Homo sapiens: one gene and its partners. The protein of the gene in region 1 purifies or fractionates together with the protein of each later gene. This does not show direct contact. Each region holds a gene or a part of one and is shown in the gene's direction. Other genes may lie near its edges. The genes, in order: AREG, SNX11 and ADCY9.

Evidence for each region.
Region 2: the proteins of AREG (region 1) and SNX11 purify together in Homo sapiens (affinity purification with mass spectrometry; 2 studies listed by BioGRID and IntAct, with this or other methods). This does not show direct contact.
Region 3: the proteins of AREG (region 1) and ADCY9 purify together in Homo sapiens (affinity purification with mass spectrometry; 3 studies listed by BioGRID and IntAct, with this or other methods). This does not show direct contact.

What each region holds. Positions count from the first base shown.
Region 1 is NC_000004.12:74,441,133-74,448,200, forward strand, and holds the start of AREG (amphiregulin preproprotein), read left to right. Parts: upstream 1-4,003; 5' UTR 4,004-4,213; coding exon 4,214-4,274; intron 4,275-5,401; coding exon 5,402-5,650; intron 5,651-7,068.
Region 2 is NC_000017.11:48,117,758-48,124,204, forward strand, and holds the end of SNX11 (sorting nexin-11), read left to right. Parts: intron 1-946; coding exon 947-1,042; intron 1,043-1,216; coding exon 1,217-1,429; intron 1,430-3,477; coding exon 3,478-3,751; 3' UTR 3,752-5,844; downstream 5,845-6,447. UniProt on the Homo sapiens protein: Phosphoinositide-binding protein involved in protein sorting and membrane trafficking in endosomes. Regulates the levels of TRPV3 by promoting its trafficking from the cell membrane to lysosome for degradation.
Region 3 is NC_000016.10:3,987,366-3,994,476, reverse strand, and holds part of ADCY9 (adenylate cyclase type 9), read left to right. Parts: intron 1-152; exon of another isoform or gene 153-966; coding exon 967-1,071; coding exon of another isoform or gene 1,072-1,128; exon of another isoform or gene 1,129-1,435; intron 1,436-1,568; exon of another isoform or gene 1,569-2,113; coding exon 2,114-2,331; exon of another isoform or gene 2,332-2,347; intron 2,348-5,380; coding exon 5,381-5,483; intron 5,484-7,111. UniProt on the Homo sapiens protein: Adenylyl cyclase that catalyzes the formation of the signaling molecule cAMP in response to activation of G protein-coupled receptors.

The sequences.
Region 1 (7,068 bases):
TAAATATATTTCTCTTATGATTTTCTTAAGAATTTTTATCTCTAACCTATTGTAAGAAGAGAGTATACAATACATATAACACACAAAATAATGTTAAACAACTTTATATTATCAATAAGTGTTCTGGGCACCAGTAGGGAATTAGAGGTTAAGTTCTGGGGGAGTCAAAAGTTATACATGGATTTTTCTCATGTCAGGTAGGCACCCTTTCACACCACAGTGTTAAAAAGTCAACTGTAATTTGACTTTATTGGTATATCAAGGTACTCAAAATGCTCAGTTAAGGCTTCTTTTTGAAGGAACTAAAAATTATATATATATATATATATATATATATATATATATATATATATGTATTTTGATACAGAGTCTCACTCTCTGTCACCCAGTCTGGAGTGCGGTGGCATGATCTTGGCTCACTGCGATCTCCGTCTCCCGCATTCAAGTGATTCCCCTGCCTCAGTCCCCACTCCTGAGTAGCTGGGACTACAGGTGCCTGCCACTGCACCCGGCTAAGTTTTGTCATTTTAGTAGAGACAGGGTTTCATCATGTTGGCCAGGCTGGTCTCAAACTCCTGACCTGAGATGATCCACCTGCCTTGGCCTCCCAAAGTGCTGGGATTACAGGCGTGAGCCACCGTGCCCAGCCTGATGGATGTATTCTTCAGTATGGATAAATTATAAAATAAAATGAACATTATATATATATCTAAATGGAGCTAGTGCATTTATTAATAATATAGGGAATGTTGCTTATACATTGGAGGATTTCTTAATTCTGGTTTGGAGGTTTGCGTGTTGACTCATAAAAGTAACTGTGATGCAATACTTACTCACTATAGGACTATCTATAAAAATTCAATATCAATTATATGAACATGATTGTACTTTTGGTTTTATAGTACATCTTTCAGCAGAGCCAAAGTGAAATCATTTCACTATTCATATGAAATATCAGGACTCATGGAGTAGGCATCAAACTGAGTGGTTAGGAGCATTTGCTCTTAGGGCTGCCCTTAACCTATACATAGATTAAGGGACCATCAATTTATCATGATAAAAAAGGGCTGCTACTCAAACTTTTTGAAATTGTTCCCCTTTGTCTCTGCCTAGCATGCAGAATGTTGAATGTAAAGAATCCTACATTTACACAGGGTTGGTTTCCAACTCATGCATATATTCCAGAATGCCATGACACATCAATAGGTGCTGCAATGTGATGTGGTTGTGACGACGCTCCATGCTGCCCAATGATGCACCATAAAATACCCAAAATGGTTAGTCTTAATGTGAAGTAAATACTAAGTTCATGGATTGAAAATATTGAAGATTACTTCACTTGCTCTGTAGCTCCATTTATAAGAGTCCTTCAGTTCTTAAATATGATTTACATAGTGTAACTATCATAATATCAAGGGTATTCATGATAGTTGCCATTTATTGAGCACTCACTCTATGCTAGGATCTGGTATTGTTCATGTATCTTATCCATTTGATCTGCTTAAAAGCATGTAGTTATCTTTATTTTTTATTTTCAGATGAGGAATCTGAATCTTTCAAATATTAAGTAACTTAGTATGTGCTGGAATTTGTATATGAAAACCCACATTGGTTTGAATCTAAAGCTCATCCAAAGCACTAAGCTATGCTGTCCCCATGATCTAGGTTATGTGCCTAGATCATGTAAATGTTCACCCTATAAATTTCCAACTGGAAAAAGACTAAGCAATTTCCAATATAAACAGTCCACTTTCCCAAAAGTGAAACATTTCTGATGACTGATCTGCACAATGTGTTTTCATCTCAATAAGAAGAGTAAGAAAATGGAAAGTATTGCATATGTTAAATAGCTTGATTTAACCTCATTGTATACATATATCAAAACATCATGTCATATACTACAAATATGAAGTTACTTGTCAATCAAAAAAAAAAAGAAGAAAAGAGAAGAACAGGCCTAGAACAGAAATGAAGCCTATGGGAGCATAAAGGTGCAACAGTGTAGACCAACTGCGTGAGCTCCAAACAAAGTCTCCAAAAGAATCTTTTGAAATCTTTGGGCAAGTCTCTCAATCTCTCTGAATCACAATTGCCTCATCCACCAGAACAGATAACAGTGCAGGCCCCTACTTCACTTTGGAATGGGCATGACACTTTTCTAGCCTTATTTCCCATACTTGGTCATACCCTCACATCAGGTCTTTATTCCATGTAAAAGATTTGCTGGGAAGGCCTTTGAGGGGCCTCTTCATCTTTCCACAGAGCTTTCCATTAAACAGAGGCAAAATTAAACCATGTCCTTTTTTTCCATGGCACTCTGAACCCTTCTCATCATGTGATCTATTAGAATTACTTATCTATGTATCTGGCCCACACCACTGAGCTCCTGGTGAACCTATACTGCTCCCCTTCATAAAATATAAAGCAGGTGGCTCACACAAAATACACTCTCAACAAATGTGGAATAGAAGGCATGATTCATGATTATTTCATTCTACTAAATGCATGATATTATTTGGACTACGCACTGTGATATACCATTAAAAATAAGTGATTTTTAAAAAAAAATTTCCAGAATTAGGACAGATGCACTGTGACTCACGTTATTATTATTATTATTATTATTATTATTATTATTATTATTATTTTGAGTCGGAGTCTTGCTCTATCACCCATGATGGAGTACAGTGGCATGACCTTGGCTCACTGCAACGTCTGCCTCCCGGGTTCAAGGGAGTCTCCTGCCTCAGCCCACCCGAGTAGCTGGGACTACAGGCGCGCGCCATCACGCCCAGCTAATTTCCTTTGTATTTTTAGTAAAGATGGGGTTTTGCCATCTTGGCCAGGCTGCTCTCGAACTCCTGACCTCAGGTGATCCACCCGCCTCGGCTTCCCAAAGTGCTGGGATTACAGGCATGAGCCACTGCGCCTGGCCTGACCTACATTCTTAAAAGGGCTGTGTTACTGAAACAATCAGGAAAGAATCATATCTCCAGGTGAAGGAAAATGAACAATGCTTTTTCTCTTCCTCAAGTCAAGAAAAATCCAGTTCTTTAGTTGACAGTACATCCAAGTTAGTCAAATTAAGTAGCTTCCTGTCTCCGCTTCATTTTATCTACTTGTCATGATTAAATATCCTACTAGGTTGTAAGTGGGCCCTCAACGCTGACCTTTTTATCTTGGGATTTGAGAGGCACAGTCTAGAGCACTACTCTTCACCTAAATGCCAGTATGCCACCAGTAGAAATTATCCTTTAGGCTAAATATTGTTCTTCCCAGAAACCCTCTTTTCAAGGATCAGTTTAAACCTAAATTCATCAGAGAGGAAAACAGCAGATTTCAGAGTCAGATGAAGAATTCATATCCACCTGGCTTTGAACATTATCGGCTGTGAGATGGTGTAGGTAAAATTTTAAGTGCATAATTTGGCAATAATAAATCATCAATAAATATTAATGTTGATGAGGCCCCTGGGCCACATAAAGAAATAGGGAGTGAGGGGATTTGAAATTCTGGCCACTTCACAGAAATGGGTGGGAAGGGGCTCTTGATTGAGATAGAAGCCCATCCTACATGAAGCAATTCCTCATTGAGTTCTCTCGTCCTTTATCCTTGTTGGAAACATCAGGCAAAGTCACTCTTGGTCTTAAAGTACTTTTACATCTAAATACGGAACTCTTCTATTTAATCCCTGTCTGTTGTAGATGTTAAGTATACAAAGAGGTTGTCAGAGTTTGAAACATCTGGACTTCTGTCAGGTACTAGCTCCGGAACTCCAGTCCTGCTCGCCCTCAAAAACGGCTTGCAGCTAGAGGTTTAAGTTCCACTTCCTCTCAGCGAATCCTTACGCACGAGGGAGGCGGGGCGTGTGTCCTCCGCGCGTGGTTTTCGGGTAGCACCTTCTGGGGCGCCGCCTGCCTCCACCCACGGCCGGGCCTTGACGTCATGGGCTGCGGCCCCCTCCCGGCTGAGCCTATAAAGCGGCAGGTGCGCGCCGCCCTACAGACGTTCGCACACCTGGGTGCCAGCGCCCCAGAGGTCCCGGGACAGCCCGAGGCGCCGCGCCCGCCGCCCCGAGCTCCCCAAGCCTTCGAGAGCGGCGCACACTCCCGGTCTCCACTCGCTCTTCCAACACCCGCTCGTTTTGGCGGCAGCTCGTGTCCCAGAGACCGAGTTGCCCCAGAGACCGAGACGCCGCCGCTGCGAAGGACCAATGAGAGCCCCGCTGCTACCGCCGGCGCCGGTGGTGCTGTCGCTCTTGATACTCGGCTCAGGTGAGGATTCACCGGCGCTGAACTGCTGGGCTCTCCTCCCATGGCAGGTTTTGCCTCTTGAGTTTGGCTCTTGCTTCTCTAAAAATCGCCCTTTAGTTCCCCCGACCCTGCGCCGCAGGAGGTGATCACTGTAGCTCCCTCCCTAGGAGGAAAAGAGAAGGGCAGATGTCTCAAACGTCCAGGACAAGGTGTCCCAGAGAATCGCTGTACTTTTTCTTTAGTTCAGCTGAGAAGACGGGAGAGATCATTTGAACCTAACCCTTCGTTTCACAGATTAAAAGATTAAAAAGACCAAGATCTAGAGAGGTGAAGTGATTTCCGCAGATATTGGACCCAGCAGTGTTTGCTGCCTCCTGCCTAATTCTCCATCTCTGTCTAGTGATTTCTTCTTTACCTTCCTAGAGGGACTTAGAGTATCCCGGCGAGAGGTTAAAAGCACCACTCTGATGCTGTTTTATTGAGACCTAAGAAAAAGCAAGATAAAGCAGTGGCTTAACTCTGGGCCCCAAATCTTACTTAGTACTCAGTTTATTGTCTATGTAGTAATAATAATAATGATAATGAAAAATGACAATAATAATCGATATAATTAACCACTGTTTATATTATTTTAAAAGATTATCTTTTAAAAATATCTTTTAAAAATATGAACACATCTTTTAAAAATATGAACACATCTTTTAAAAATATCTTTTAAAAATATGAACACATCTGAAGAAAATCTGATATTTGTATCTAAAACCTACCGAAATAGGCCAGGATGGCATTCTAGCAAAAAAAGAAATGCATTTGGAATGTGAAGTGATGGGAATTTTTAGACATTACCCATCAAGTAATTGTATTAGATTAATTTGCCAATTTGGCGGGATTTTTTTGATGTGGAAATTAATGTGGATTATCTGTGGAAAAGAAAAACTTCAGAAAAGCACTTCTGTAATTGGGACAGCTGAATTTGCTTGCTGGCAAAAATGTAAAGTTTCTTTCATAGAAATGACTCAATCACAAACAATAGCACATGTGCAATAACTGCTTTGATGTCAAAAGATAAACTTTTCTACCTAACACAGCTGACTCGAAAGGCACCCTACTTTACCTTTTCTTTTCTTCCTTTATTCCCTCCCCTGCAGGCCATTATGCTGCTGGATTGGACCTCAATGACACCTACTCTGGGAAGCGTGAACCATTTTCTGGGGACCACAGTGCTGATGGATTTGAGGTTACCTCAAGAAGTGAGATGTCTTCAGGGAGTGAGATTTCCCCTGTGAGTGAAATGCCTTCTAGTAGTGAACCGTCCTCGGGAGCCGACTATGACTACTCAGAAGAGTATGATAACGAACCACAAATACCTGGCTATATTGTCGATGATTCAGTCAGAGGTGAGTAGGGGATAAAGCAAAAATATGGCCTGTGAGATGTGGGTTTATATGAGCAAAGCTGCTTCAGAAGTAAAGCTGCTCCCCAGATTTTCTAGTGGCTTTATTGTATATCTGTTGGATAGCCCCTAGGTAAACTGTGACAAAAAGAACCATAATGTGGGCACATCCTATATGGCCAGAGTGATCATAAATGGTGTATGTCTCATTTTTAAACCTAATCTTCACAATGACTTTAAGTAGGAATTGTTATCCTCATTTTACAGATGTGATAACTGAAGCCGAAAAAGGTTTTGCTCTAGGTTCTACAGGTGACAAGCAGATGAGCTAGAATTAGAGCTCCAGTCTGTTTGATTCTATGCAGAAGAGACACTAAGCTCTTTCCCACTATGCTACATGACCCCCATTCTGAGAGACAAATTTAGACATTAACCATTCCTATCTACTTTGTATCTTAGCTTTTGTATCCCCTTCCCCAACACCACCCTTCCCCAGATAACTGCATTTTAACACAAATAAGGGGACAAGGAAGTAATGGGACAGGAGGCATTAGACTTTAGCGTTTAAGTACTAGGTGATGAGAAGCTGATGGAATAATAATAATAATGCCATCTGGAAATATTAAAGAAGGGTGAATATACTTAGATTTTGTATTGCTAAAATCACTCTTTAACCCCAAATCCCATTTGTTAGTTATATAACCCATGGTTTCTTTCACTTTCCTGTTATCTCATATTTTAAAAAGGCCCTTTGCTTGGAGTGAAAGTACCAAAGTAAGAGAGAAATATTGCATACTTTGGAGTCTGAAGGAAGAAGAAGTTAACAGTAAATAAGATCTAAATATCCTAAGAGCATCCACTACAGAGGCAGGGCAAGATGGTTTCAGAGCTGTTGAAGGCCTTTTCTGTCCTGACTTGAGTTTCCCTGGCTTCTCCCCCTCTTGTCTGGTTCTCAGAACTGGTGAAGGGACATCAAGTGGTACCAGAGGGACAGTGACTTGGGTGAGTGGGAAGTGAGAAAACCTTTAGCGAACACTCCACTTAATTCCCTTCCTTCTCAAAGTGTGCTTTTCTGTGAGGTGGGTAAGGGGTTCATTTGTGCTTATTTTTGAAGGCATGAGATTAGACCCATCAAGGTGTCTAGAAACTGTTCTCTTAAACATGTTTCAAGTTGTTAACACTTCAGAAGGCCAAGTAAATGATTAGTAGTACAAATGATGACTAGTGCTCAAAATTGCAATGCATTGTGAAATAGAGTGAAAATGTTGGCTGAACACCTTCGAAAGGCTAAGTTAAATGTCCATGATGTTAGTGCTTATCGCAACACTTCAGCATAGTGACTTTTTTATTTGCCTCTGTCTATAGTTTGTAATCTATCTGACAAAGTGAAGTTACAACGTTCATTCAAAATATTTCTCTTAA
Region 2 (6,447 bases), on another chromosome or scaffold:
TTTGGGAGGTTAAGGAAGGAGGATCACTTGAGGCCAGGAGTTTGAGACCAGCCTGGGCAACAGAGCAATACTGTCTCTACAGATACATAAGTAAACAAATAAATAAATTAGGTGCACACAGTGGCACGTACCGGTAGTCATAGTTATTCTGGGAGGCTGATGCAGGAGGATTACTTCATCCCAGGAATTTGAGGCTGCGGCGAGCTATGCTCACGTTTATGCTACTGCACTCCAGCCTGGGCAACCTGGAGAGAGCAGCTTGGAAAGCAATACCTTGTCTCTAAAATCAAACAGACAAAAATAATGTATCAGCATGGGTTTTATAGTCATAGATCTGGTTCTGATATGAGCTTTGCTGCTTATTAGCTGTGTAACAGTGAGACATTTACTTAACTTCTCTGATCTGAAGTGAGTTAATATCTTTCTCACGGGGTTTTGGGATGACTAAATGAAATCATGTTTATAAAACATTTAGCACAGTCTGGCTTGACACTTGGCATGCAGTCAATGTTAGCACCACCCCTTATTAAAAGCTAATTGGGGCCAGGCACGGTGGCTCATGCCTGTAATCCCAGCACTTTGGGAGGCCGAGGCAGGCAGGGATCACGAGGTCAGATCAAGACCATCCTGGCTAACATGGTGAAACCCCGTCTCTATTAAAAATACAAAAAATTAGCTGGGTGTGGTGGCCTGCACCTGTAATCCCAGTTACTCGGGAGGCTGAGGCAGAGAACTGCTTGAACCCGGGAGGCAGACGTTGCAGTAAGCCGAGATTGTACCACTGCACTTCAGCCTGGGCGACAGAGCGAGACTCCATCTCAAAAAAAAAAAAAAAAGCTATTTGTATTGATTAGACCTCTTTTTAAGGGATTTCCTTGATCAGAGGCCGGAATGACTATCTTAGATGTTACACTTATCATGGGTGTTATATCATGTGGCTGCACAGGCCTGTTCCTGAACTTCCTGGGAAGTCAACCTTCTTCGGCACCTCAGATGAGTTCATTGAGAAGCGACGACAAGGTCTGCAGCACTTCCTTGAAAAGTGAGTGGACAGAACGGCTGGTGCTGGCCACCAAGGGTGGAGGCAGGGGTGGAGGAATGTGCCAGGCAGGATGGAGCTCCCTGCTCAGGTAGCCAGAAGTTCTTAAGAGGATGGGGAATGGAGAGCAGTTCCTCAGGGTGATGCTCTGTGTTGTGCTACCTGTGTTTTTCCCAGGGTCCTGCAGAGTGTGGTTCTCCTGTCAGACAGCCAGTTGCACCTATTCCTGCAAAGCCAGCTCTCGGTGCCTGAGATAGAAGCCTGTGTCCAGGGCCGAAGTACCATGACTGTGTCTGATGCCATTCTTCGATATGCTATGTCAAACTGTGGCTGGGCCCAGGAAGAGAGGCAGAGCTCTTCTCACCTGGCTAAAGGAGACCAGCCTAAGAGGTAACTGGAGTACTCTTTGAGATAGCAGGGGCTAGGTTTGCTATAACCTGGACCAGAGAGGTGTCCATTTGTTAGGGAAAGTAATGTCATAGCATTGGTAGCCTTTCACAACCTTTCTTGTTCTTTGGGTGCGTGGCTTTCTATCCAGGTGGGTCTGTGTTAACCCACCACTGGGTAGCAGGGGCTCCTACTGAAACCTGGGGAGAAAGAAGGGAAAGCTTTCTCATTTATTCGGTTTTTTATTCCTCCTCCCTCCCTTTTTATTTATTTATTTTTTTGTGTGGAGACGGACGCTCACTCTTTCACCCAGGCTGGAGTGCAGTGGCGTGATCTCGGCTCACTGCAACCTCTGCCTCCTGGGTTCAAGCGATTCTCCTGCCTCAGCTTCCTGAGTAGCTGGGATTACAGGCAAGTGCCACCACACCTGGCTAAGTTTTGTATTTTTAGTAGAGACGGGATTTTGCCATGTTGGCCAGGCTGGTCTCAAACACCTGACCTTAGGTGATCCGCCTGCCTCTGCCTCCCAAAGTGCTAGGATTATTGGCATAAGCCTGGCCTAATAGCTTTATTGACACACAATTTACCTGCCATAAAGTTTACCTTTTTAGATACAGTTCAGTAGTTTTTAATATAGTCACAGGGTTGTATAACTGTCAGCCACCACAGTCAATTTTAGAACATTTTCATCACCCCGAAAGAAACCCTGTACCCATGAGTAGTGACTCCCCTGTCCTTCCCTCCCCCCCAGCTCCTGGCAACCACTAGTCTACTTTCTCTGTCTATGCATTTGTCTATTTTGGACATTTACACAAATGGAGTCATATGATTTGTGGTCTTTTGTAACTGGCTTTTTTCATCTAACAATGTTTTCAAGGTTCATTTGTATTTTATCATGTGTCATTACTTCATTACTGTTTTTTTCTCTTTTTTTCCCCCATTTTTATGGCTAAATAGCAGTCCATTTATATGGTGCTATATACCACATTTTGTTTATCCATTCACTTGCATTTATCTGTTTTTTTTTTTTTTTTTTTTTTTGAGACAGAGTCTTGCTCTGTTACCCAGGCTGGAATGCAGTGGCATGATCTCGGCTCACTGCAACCTCCGCCTCCCAGGTTCAAGCAACTCTTCTGCCTCAGCCTCCCTAGTAGCTGGGATTACAGGCACCTGCCACCACACCCAGCTAAGTTTTTGTATTTTTAGTAGAGATAGGGTTTCACCATGTTGGCCAGGCTGGTCTCGAACTCCTGACCTCAGGTGATCCACCCGTTTCAGCCTCCCAAAGTGCTGGGATTACAGGTGTGAGCCATCGCACCTGGCCTTTTTTTTTTTTTTTTTTTTGAGATGGAGTCTTGCTCTGTTGCCCAGGCTGGAGTGCAGTGGCACGATTCAGCTCACTGCAAGCTCTGCCTCCCGGGTTCACACCATTCTCCTGCCTCAGCCTCCCGAGTAGCTGGGACTACAGGCGCCCGCCACCATGCCCGGCTAATTTTTTTTGTATTTTTAGTAGAGACGGGGTTTCACCGTGTTAGCCAGGATGGCCTCCATCTCCTGACCTCGTGATCTGCCCACCTCGGTCTCCCAAAGTGCTGGGATTACAGGCGTGAGCCACCACGCCCGGCCTCTTTTTTATTTTTTTAAATTGAGATAGGGTTTCACCAGGTTACCCAGGTTGGTCTCCACCTCCCAGACTCAAATAATTCACCATGCCCAGCCATTTTTTTTTTTTTTAATCGGGCAGCCTCCTGAGTCAGAACAGGCTCAGAGAGACTTCCCTTTCTGTTCATTTTTGTTTATATGTTCATACTTTTTTTTCTGAGACAGAGTCTCACTCTGTTGCCCAGGCTGAAGTGCAGTGGTGTAATCATAACTCACTGCAGCCTTGACCTCCAAGGCTCAAGCAATCTTCTGGCCTCAGCTTCCTGAGTAGTTGGGATTACAGGCACATGCCAACATCCCTGGCTAATTTATTTTTTTGTAGAGACGGAGTCTCCCTATGTTACCCAAGCTGTTCATACCTTTCTTTTCCCTTTCCCACTCTTTTCCAGTTGCTGCTTTCTTCCAAGATCGGGTAGGAGGAGCTCTCCCTCACCGCCTCCCAGTGAAGAAAAGGACCATTTAGAAGTGTGGGCTCCAGTTGTTGACTCTGAGGTTCCTTCCTTGGAAAGTCCCACTCTCCCACCCCTCTCCTCACCATTATGCTGTGATTTTGGAAGACCCAAAGAGGGAACCTCCACTCTTCAGTCTGTGAGGAGGGCTGTGGGAGGAGATCATGCTGTGCCTTTGGACCCTGGTCAGTTAGAAACAGTTTTGGAAAAGTGAGCTCTGGGTTCTGCTCTGAGATGGTCAGAGAAGATGCGGGCCAGGAGACTTACTCAGGTGGGACTGGGCACAGGGCAGGTATGTGGGAGGCTGGGCTGCTTAGTGTCTTCTAGTCACCTCTGCTTGGGCTGATTGACAGAGGTCAGTCATTACAGCCCCTTATGCCTCTTCCATGGGAACAAATACTGTGCAGATGTTTGTAAGTTAAACATAAGACACAGGGGCTGTTGCTTTTGAACAGAACCCTATATTACTCTCCTGGGATCTGAGTTTCTGCAGGTCATTTGTATGTAGGACCAGGAGTATCTCCTCAGGTGACCAGTTTTGGGGACCCGTATGTGGCAAATTCTAAGCTGCCATATTGAACATCATCCCACTGGGAGTGGTTATGTTGTATCCCCATCTTGGCTGGCTTCAGTTTTTGCTGTAGCCCTAGAGCACTTTGTTTGTGGGAGGCTGGCCTCTTGCCTACCTCCTTGCATGGACAGGGGGATGAATATTTACTTTCCCACCTCCTTGCTTTTTCTTTCACTGATACCACTGAATGGAACTGGTGCTGTGACTCCTGCTGCTGGGGATTTATGTCCCGAGACCTTAGCCTGGCTGAGTGGAGCCTGAGACCTGCACAACAGCTCATGGTCATGCATGAGAGAGAAGTGGCTGGCCACAGCCAGAGGGAACAGTAACAGCCCAGGGGCCTTTATTTTGGGAAAGGCTGTCCCGGGCTGTTACTGTCTCTTCTGGTTATAAAGCAGACATGTGGCCATCTTTTCCGCAGGGTTAGAGTGGGCTCCTTTCTTTTTGGAATCCTTTTCTTCTCCTTTGGTAGCAGCTCCCTGCCTCCAGGGCTTCCGCCACCAGCGTCTCTGCTGTGTTGCGCAGTGCAGTGGGGTGCAAGGGCTTTGTTTCTGCCTGCCTGAAAGAGAGGGCTCTGGGGATGGAGATGAGAAACAACACGCTCTCCTTCAGACAATGAGGCATTCTGTCCTCCTGCTGCCATTCTTCATCTCCACTGAGAGCCAGAGCTGGTAGGAGCCGAGTGCCACAGGCATTCTGCATTGCTCTACTCTTAGGTTTGTGTGTGTGATCCTTCCCCTCCCTGTCGCCCACTCCTCCCTCCTCTGGCTATCCTACCCTGTCTGTGGGCTCTTTTACTACCAGCCTATGCTGTGGGACTGTCATGGCATTTAGTTCAGAGTGGAGGGGCTTTGGCCTGAAATAAAATGCAAGTATTTAAGATTGTTGTTGCAATTTGTGTCTAACAAGCTGTAGCAGAGAAGGAGGGAGTGAGCGCTGGCAGTATTTCCTTTCATAAATCATGAATTTATCAGTGTGGAAATAATGCTTCAGAACTGTGCTCTGTAGCCCTCCTGCATTGTGTGTGCAGCTCAAGTTCACCACTGGAGGAAGGATTGTCTTCCAAAGAGCTGGGATCCAACTCTTCTCACAGTTCTGGGCGTGAACCTTGTTAGGTATAATTTACCTGATGCTGCTTCCATCCTCGCAGTCTGTCTGAGGTGCCAGGTGCTGAAAGAGAAATAAAGTTTGTCAACAGGCAGATGCAAAGCCCTGGCTGGTATTCATCCCTCTTTCCTGCCCGCCTCCCCTGGGTCTCTCCTTTATATGATGCAGCAGAGCAAGGCGAGGATAGAAAACCTACAGAGGCAAATCCAAAATGTCAGAAGAAGTTCATTTAAAAGGGGAAAAAAACTCCATGTGCAACCCTCACAAAAACCCGACAGATGCTAAGCTAATGGCATCCGCTCTGCCGATTGGTGGGGATGGCTCATGAATATTAATGAGCCCAATGCTCCAAATGGTGCAGCTGTGAACCCAGCTGTGCCTGAAGCTCTCTGATCTCGAAACTTCCAGACAGGAGCTGGAGGTGGTCTGTGTCAATTCCCTACTCAGCCAAAAAAACAGCAAGCTGGGTTGGCCTTCTTCTGTTTGCTCCTTTTCTTCCTGGAGTTGGTGCTCAGCAGCTAGTTCTGCCAGCCGGCTAGGCTGCTGGGACAGCAGGAGCCATTCAAAGACATGGATGTGATTTTTCTGACTCCCAGCTTTTTTAATGATCCATTAGCAGCATGCATACAACAGCACCTCAGTTAATCTAAGGCCAGGCACCATCTCTTTTCAGTCTCTCTCTTAACTGAGTATAGGCCTTGGAAGGAGAAGTCCTAGGAAGGAAAGCACTTTTCTAATAATACAAGCCTAGGGTCATCCGAAAAATAGCGCACATGAGTTTTCCTCTCCATCCAGATAGTGCCATAGGCCCCTCTTCTGTTTTGCTCTGTCCCTGCGTGTGCCCAGGTCTAGCCACTGTGGCCAGATGACCTCTATGAAAGATGGAGGATTAGCTGTGGGGAGTGGCTCATTGAGCTGTTTTGTAGGATAAAAATATTTTGTTTAGAATTTAGTTTTGAGTCAAGTTCTGTCCTGATGTAGTCACCTTTCTTCTGTCAGATACCTCCATGGCCCACATCTAGTCATCCATTACCCAGGATGACTGATTCCAAGCTTGTGGAGGTTGTTTGGTGGGAGGAAATGTGTTTGTGTGTGAGGGGGGTGTTTTCTTACATTAAAATACTAAGTTTTATAAACATAATTTTATTGGCCCTTCTCAGTGCCTAGCAAGGAAGGTAGGTTAGGTATATGCTCCTTTTTTCGTTGAGGAAACTGAGCTCAATGTTTTTGTG
Region 3 (7,111 bases), on another chromosome or scaffold:
TCTCAAAAAATATTTAAAAATCGATCTTTTTAAAGTGTACAGTTCAGTGGTTTTTAGTATATTTAGCAAGGTTGTGCAACCATCACCGTGATCAATTTCAGAACATTTTTATCATCCCAAAGAGAAACCCTGTTGAAATACCACAAACCAGGTGGCTTTTAAACAACAGAAATGTATTTCTCAGGGTTCTGGAGGCTGGGAAGTCCGAGATCAAGGTCCCGGAAGATTCAGTGTCCAGTGAGGACCCGTTCCTGCTTCACAGATGGTGCCTTCTCCCAGGGCGAAGGGACGAGGGATTCCTCTGGGGCCTCTTTTATGAGGGCACTAATCCTATTTTGAAGGCTTGTCCCCCATGACCTAATTACCTCCCAAGGCTTTGCCCCCCAATGCCATCCCCTTGGGAATTAGGATTTCAGCGTCTGACTTTTGAGGGGGCACAAACATTCGAATCGTAGCAAACCCCACGCCCCTTAGCAGCCACTCCCCCTTCCTGCCCCCGGTCCCGCCTGGCAGCCAGGAATCTGCCTTCTCCCTCCAAGGATTCACCTTTTCTGAATATTTCACATAGACGGGATCACGTAATATCTGTGCTGTGTCTGGCTTCCCTCCCCGAGCATAATGTTTTCGAGGTTCACCATGCTGTGGCAGGCGTCAGTGCTTCCGTCTTTTTCGTGGCTGAGTAATATCCCATTGTTCGAATAGACCACAGTTTGTTGATCCATTGTTCAGTCAGTGAACATTCCCGGTTCCATTTTTGGGTCCTGTTGCGTTCGTGCCCGGGTTTCTGTGTGTTTCCACTGTCACTTTGCCCGTTGGCTTTCAGCTCATCCCCGAGCGGTTCTGTGTGCCTTCCCCTTGCTCACCACCATGCTGCGTGACGGCAGATGGCAACAGCGGACCTGCCTGAATTCAGGGTGGCAGTCGCGGTTTCTGGGTGTGTCCCCACAGTCTGTGTTTTTCTTCTAGACCTGCCCTTCGTGCGGAATCACATTTGCTCCCAAATCTGAAGCCGGCGCCGAGGGAGGAGCACCTCAAAACGGCTGCCAAGACGAGCATAAAAACAGCACCAAGGTAACAAGCTCATGGCTGTTGTTCCTGTCAGTTCCTCTCCTGGCGCATCCACCCAAGGTGACATTCCTGTCTTGTCGACTTCTTAGTTCTGAGAGTAACTCCTCTTGGGTAACAGCACTCCGCACCCGCGGGTCCTCCGGGTGTTGAAGAGACCGGCAGGGAGCTCGAGGGAGGGTCAGCAGCAACCCACGTGGAAACCAGCGCTCAGGGGCTGAGCTGGGCGGGATTCCTTTAAAGGCCAATAAGGGTTTAAAATGCGTGGATTCGAGTGCCGGGAGGGGATTTGTGGTACTGGAAGCTGGACTCAGTTTATGAGAGAATATAGACGGGCAGAGACAAGAGGGGGTCTTCACGGCGAGAAAGGCTGGGTGAAGAGAGAGGTTGGGAGTTAGGGCCGGTGGCAGGAAGGCTTTCAGGAAAACCAGACTTGGACACCAGGGCCAGGACTCAGCCCACCCGCGAGAGCCTGTCGGCGGGGGCTCATGCAGGCGACTCACCTGGGGCGCGGGCTCTCGTCCTCCATCTGCTCTCCATCTGCCAAAGGATTGCAGGTGCAGGTCATCCCATGCCTTCCCACAGCCACGGGGGACACCCACGACACGAGCCCGTTTCCATCCACCTTGCCTGTGCCCTGACAGCCCTGGACCCCTCGTCATACTTCTCCTGGACCCCCGACCCATGCACCCTGCTCCCAGAACCGTGGTTCTGGCCTAAGCAGACTCTGGGGGCCTCGGCTCCTCACTTTCCTCCCTTCCCCTCCACCTCCGCACCGACTCTTCCCATGTCTCAATGTCCTGGCAGCCTGAACACCCAGCGTTACCACTGGGCACTGTTGGGTAACAGGAAGGAGCAGACGGGCAGTCAGGGCTGGGATTGGAGCAGGTCTGTAGGCGCAGGGGGGTGGGGGTTCCTCGCAGGTCAGAAAGTCCCACGCCCAGTGCAGCAGCGCCCCGCAGCGGAGGTCGGGGTGGGACAGGCGTGTGTGCCCAGTGCCCGGTGCCACTTCACTTCCCGTGTCTGCGTCCTCTTTGTCTCGAGGCAGGCTTCTGGAGGACCTAATCCCAAAACTCAGAACGGGCTCCTCAGCCCTCCCCAAGAGGAGAAGCTCACCAACAGTCAGACTTCTCTGTGTGAGATCTTGCAGGAGAAGGGAAGGTGGGCAGGGGTGAGCCTGGACCAGTCGGCTCTCCTTCCGCTGAGGTTCAAGAACATCCGGGAGAAAACGGACGCCCACTTTGTGGACGTTATCAAAGAAGACAGGTACGACTGGGGCTGTCTGGGAAAAAGCAAAGGTTGCAGGCAGAAGCCTCTCTGCCTTTTTCTTTTCTTTTCTTTAAGACTGAGTCTCGCTCTGTCATCCAGGCTGCAGTGCAGTGGCGCGATCTTGGCTCACTGCAGCCTCTATCTCCCAGGTTCAAACGATGCTCCTGCCTCAGCCTCCCAAGTAGCTGGGGTTACTGGCACCCACCACCATGCCTGGCTAGGTTTTGTATTTTTAGTAGAGATGGAGTTTCATCATGTTGGCCAGGCTGGTCTCCATACTCCTGACCTCGGGTGATCCACCTACCCCACCCTCCCAGAGTGCTGGGATTATAGGCGTGAGCCACCACGCCTGGCTTTTTTTTTTTTTTTTTTTTTTTTTATAAGGACTAGGTCTTGCTGTGTTGCCCAGGCTGGAGTGCAGTGGCTCAATCTCGGCTCACTGCAACCTCCACCTCCCAGGTTCAAGTAATTCTCCTGCCTAGGTCTCTCAAGTAGCTGGGACTACAGGCATACACAACCATGCCCAGCTAATTTTTGTGTTTTTAGTAGAGATGGGTTTTTAACATGTTGGCCAGGCGGGTCTCGAACTCTTGGCCTCAGGTGATCTGCCCGCCTCGGCCTCCTAAAGTGCTGGGATTACAGGTGTGAGCCTGTGCCTGGCCTAATGGTAACATTTTTGAAAAATACAGGTCCAGTCCTTTTATCAAATATTCCTGAAGTTGGATTGGTTAGATTCAGGCTCTCCCTCTGGCCAGGCAGAGACTGCAGAAGGGATGCCGTGTCCTCCTCAGGGTGTCCTCTCCAGGGACACGCAGTGCCCGTCTGTTCCTCATTAGTGATACTAATTTTGATTAATTAGGCAAGGTGGTGCCGGGTTGTCTCATCTAGGGTTATTATATTCCTCTTATGACTAATAAGCAATCTGTGAGAAAATACTTGAAGATCTTGTACATATTTCATTCCCCATCAGAATTCCCTAGATTTAACATTCATTGATGATTCTTGCCTCTGTCTTCACTATAATGCCTCAAAGGGTGATTTTCAGCCAGGCGCTGTGGCTCACGCCTATAATCCCAACACTTTGGGAGGCCGAGGCAGGTAGATCACCTGAAGTCAGGGGTTCAAGACCAGCCTGGCCAACAAGGTGAAACCCCGTCTCTACTAAAAGTACAAAAATTAGCTGGGCGTGGTGGCGGGTGCCTGTCATCCCAGCTACTCAGGAGGCTGAGGTAGGAGAATCGCTTGAACCCAGGAGGCAGAGGCTGCAATGAGCTGAGATCGCAGCACTGCAACTCCAGCCTGGGCAACAGAGCGAGTCTCCATCTCAAAAAACAAATAAGAAATAAATGGAGCAGCACAGCTAATAGCAGTGTCGCTTCTGCCACTTGACTGCTAAAATGTGGCCTTGTGCACATCCTCTCTGCAGCTGCGTGGTTGCTCTTCCCTCAGTCCACACTCCCTGAGTCAGGGGAGGAGAGAGGGTCAGTGTCCTGGGACAGAATTATTTCTCTTCTGAGTCTGAGAATGTTGGAAGTTACTGGATACCTGTCACAGAAAGGAGAGTGTCCGCCGTGCTGCAAGGACAGGAAGGAACACACGTGATGAGCCGTACTTTGTGTGGGGGGCACATGAGGCACTTGACATATTTCACCTGATTTACTCTTTTTTTTTTTTTTTGAGACATAGTCTTGCTGTGTCACCCAGGCTGTAATGCAGTGGCGCCATCTTGGCTCATTGCAACCTCCATCTCCCAGGTTCAAGTGATTCTCCTGCCTTAGCCACCCGAGTAGCTGGGATTACAGGCACCTGCCACCAGGCCTGGCTAATTTTTGTATTTTTTGTAGAAACGGGGGTTCACCATGTTGGCCAGGCTGGTCCCGAGCTCCTGACCTCAGGTGATCCGCTTGCCTCGGCCTCCCAAAGGTCTGGGGATTACAAGGATGAGCCACCGCGCCCAGCCTCGTCTAATTTACTTCTGATAGTCACTGTATGAGGGAGAGAGGCTAACACAGCTATATTTGCTTTCTGAAATCATGTTAACGTTCCCTTAGTTTCTAGTAATTTTCTGCAGTATAGAAAGGATATTACTATTTGCTGGCAATTCATAAATGAATGAAAGAGTCATGGAAAGCGGGGTTGATTTCCCTGCTATTAAAATCACTGAGCTTTATCATTCTGCAGGTTTCACATGCAATCTGCATATGTGACAATAGCACCAAAATTACGCTAACTATAAACACAATTTTGTGATAACAACCTGTTAGCTTTTACGGTGGCAATTACTGTCAGTGCTCTGAATGACAGGACCGCCGGTTCTGAATTATGTTTTCGTTTGAAGCCTCCAAATCCATGTAAGTACTCTCAGCACAGTGATCTGCGTGTTCTTCACAAAAGATTGTTTCAAAGAACAGAAAAGCTGCCTTCATCTTCTCCTAATCCTAGACATTAGGAATGTGTTTTCAAAAACAAGCCTCAGCAGCTCACGCTGTCATCCCAGCACTTTGGGAGGCCGAGATGGGTGGATCTCTTGAGCCCAGGAGTTCGAGACCAGCCTGACCAACATGGTGAAACCCCGCGTCTGCTAAAAAATACAAAAATTAGCTGGGTGCGGTGGCAGGCGCCTGTAATCCCAGCTACTCAGGAGGCTGAGGCAGGAGAATTGCTTGAACCTGGGAGGCGGAGATTGCAGTGAGCCAAGATCGCTGCGCCATTGCACTCCAGCCTGGGCGACAGAGTGAGACCTTGCCTCAAAAAAAAAAAACCCCAAAAAACCAAGGTTCTGATGATGTGTGCTATAATCATGGTGGATGGTCATTCTTTAACGAAGGTGAAACACAAAATATGATTATGCTTTGAGGTGCGAAGGACTTTCCACAGATCTGTTTTAACAAGGGGCAGCTGAGTGGCGTCTGTTCCACAGGCGCTTTTAGACGCAGCTGTTGTAATATACCTAATGAGCAGCGTTTTGGTAGCTAATTATGATCTGAAAACATTGGCACAGTTATGGTGCTGGGTATTGATCGACTGCATTTGTTGTGTCTTCTAGCCTGATGAAAGATTACTTTTTTAAGCCGCCCATTAATCAGTTCAGCCTGAACTTCCTGGATCAGGAGCTGGAGCGATCCTACAGGACCAGCTATCAGGAAGAGGTGCGTTCATTTCTCCTTGCGCTTTTACTAAAGAATGTGTTTGTTGTTCTCACATGGTCATTCACTGTTAGTTTTGTGCTTTACCAAGGGATGGGAACACGAAGGCGAACATTGATTTCCCACACTCTGTAAACCCTAAGTGGCAACTGTACATGAAATGTCTCTTTGCAAAGGAGGAAAAAAACCCTTTCTTTAGTCCTTTGTCTTAAAGCGCAGCCTCGCCATTACTAGCCCCTTTCCTCTGCCGTGGCATCTCCAGGCTATCCCCAGCCTTGGAAGGGGCCCCCCCACCACAACCTGTCCTGAAAGGAAACCCCCAACCTGCCCTGGAAGGAAACCCCCCCACCTGCCTTGGAAGGGGCCCCCACACCTGCCCTGGTAAAGGAACCCCCCCCACCTGCCATGGAAGGGGTCCCCCACCTGCCCTGGAAAGGAACCCCTCCCCACCTGCCCTGGAAAGGAACCCCGACACCTGCCCTGGAAGGGAACCCCCCACACCTGCCCTGGAAGGGAATCCCCCACACCTGCCCTGGAAGGGAACCCCCCACCTGCCCTGGAAGGGAACTCCCCACCGACCTGCCCTGGAAGAGCCCCCGTCCCACCTGTCCTGGAGTCTTGGGTGAGACTCTTCTCTGTTGCCCTCCCTGCTTTCTTCCCCTGAGAAGGGCCCAGGAGGCCTTCACCTCTCTCTCTAACTCCGGCTCCATGTTCCCTCTCCCGCCCCCACCGCCTTAACCCCTTGTACTTGACTTCTCAGCCCATCACCCAATCCCACTTCCTCCAAGAAGCTCTCCCCGACTGCAGACTGGATTGTACTTCCCTTCATACACTTCCTTCTCCGTGTGTGCCCCATTTTGGAATCTTTCCGTGTGTGGTTCTGGATTCGTGTTCCTCCCTCCCTAGATGCTCAGCTCTGTGAGGTAGGACCCCCGTCTCTCTCCTCCAGCCCCTCCTTACAGCCTCCAGCACAGTCCCAACACCCATCTCTCTCCTCCAGCCCCTCCTCACAGCCTCCAGCAGAGTCCCAGCGCTCACAAGTGCTCCTTAGGGGGTTGCTGGAAGGAATAATACAAGAACCTAGAGCCTGGTTTGAATCCTGGCGGCTTCCAGACTGCATTCTCTCCTCTGGGCCCAAACCTAACCTCTGAGTGTTCCCAAGTCAAGAGTGGATGCCCTCCCCACCCGGAACAAAAGGGATTTCTCACTCTGATTCCCTTGGTTCCTCCAGCAGGTCTTCATTAAACTCCGTGGTGTCCTGGCTTGGGCTCTAGAGAGACCCTGGTGAGCCCAGTAGAGCCAGTTCATGCCTCGTGGGGTGGGAGGTGCCCCCTTCCGTCAGCCTCCAAGGGACAGTGAATATCCGTTAATGTCCCAGACATGGCTCCCGGAGTGGACTTGCAAGTTGGCAGTTGGCTGGTTGGTGGCCCGTAAGGCAAAATATCGTCTCATTTAATGCTCATAGCAATGCTGTAGGGAAGCTGATGATTATCCTCCTTTTACCAAAGAGCTGACGCTGAGCAAGGCTGAACAGGTGGCTGTGGTCCCATAGCCGGGGTCGGACACGAGTGGTCTGGCTGCCAAACCAGGCGTCCGGGCCGCTTCTCGCCCTGCACTGCTGAGCCTCCCAA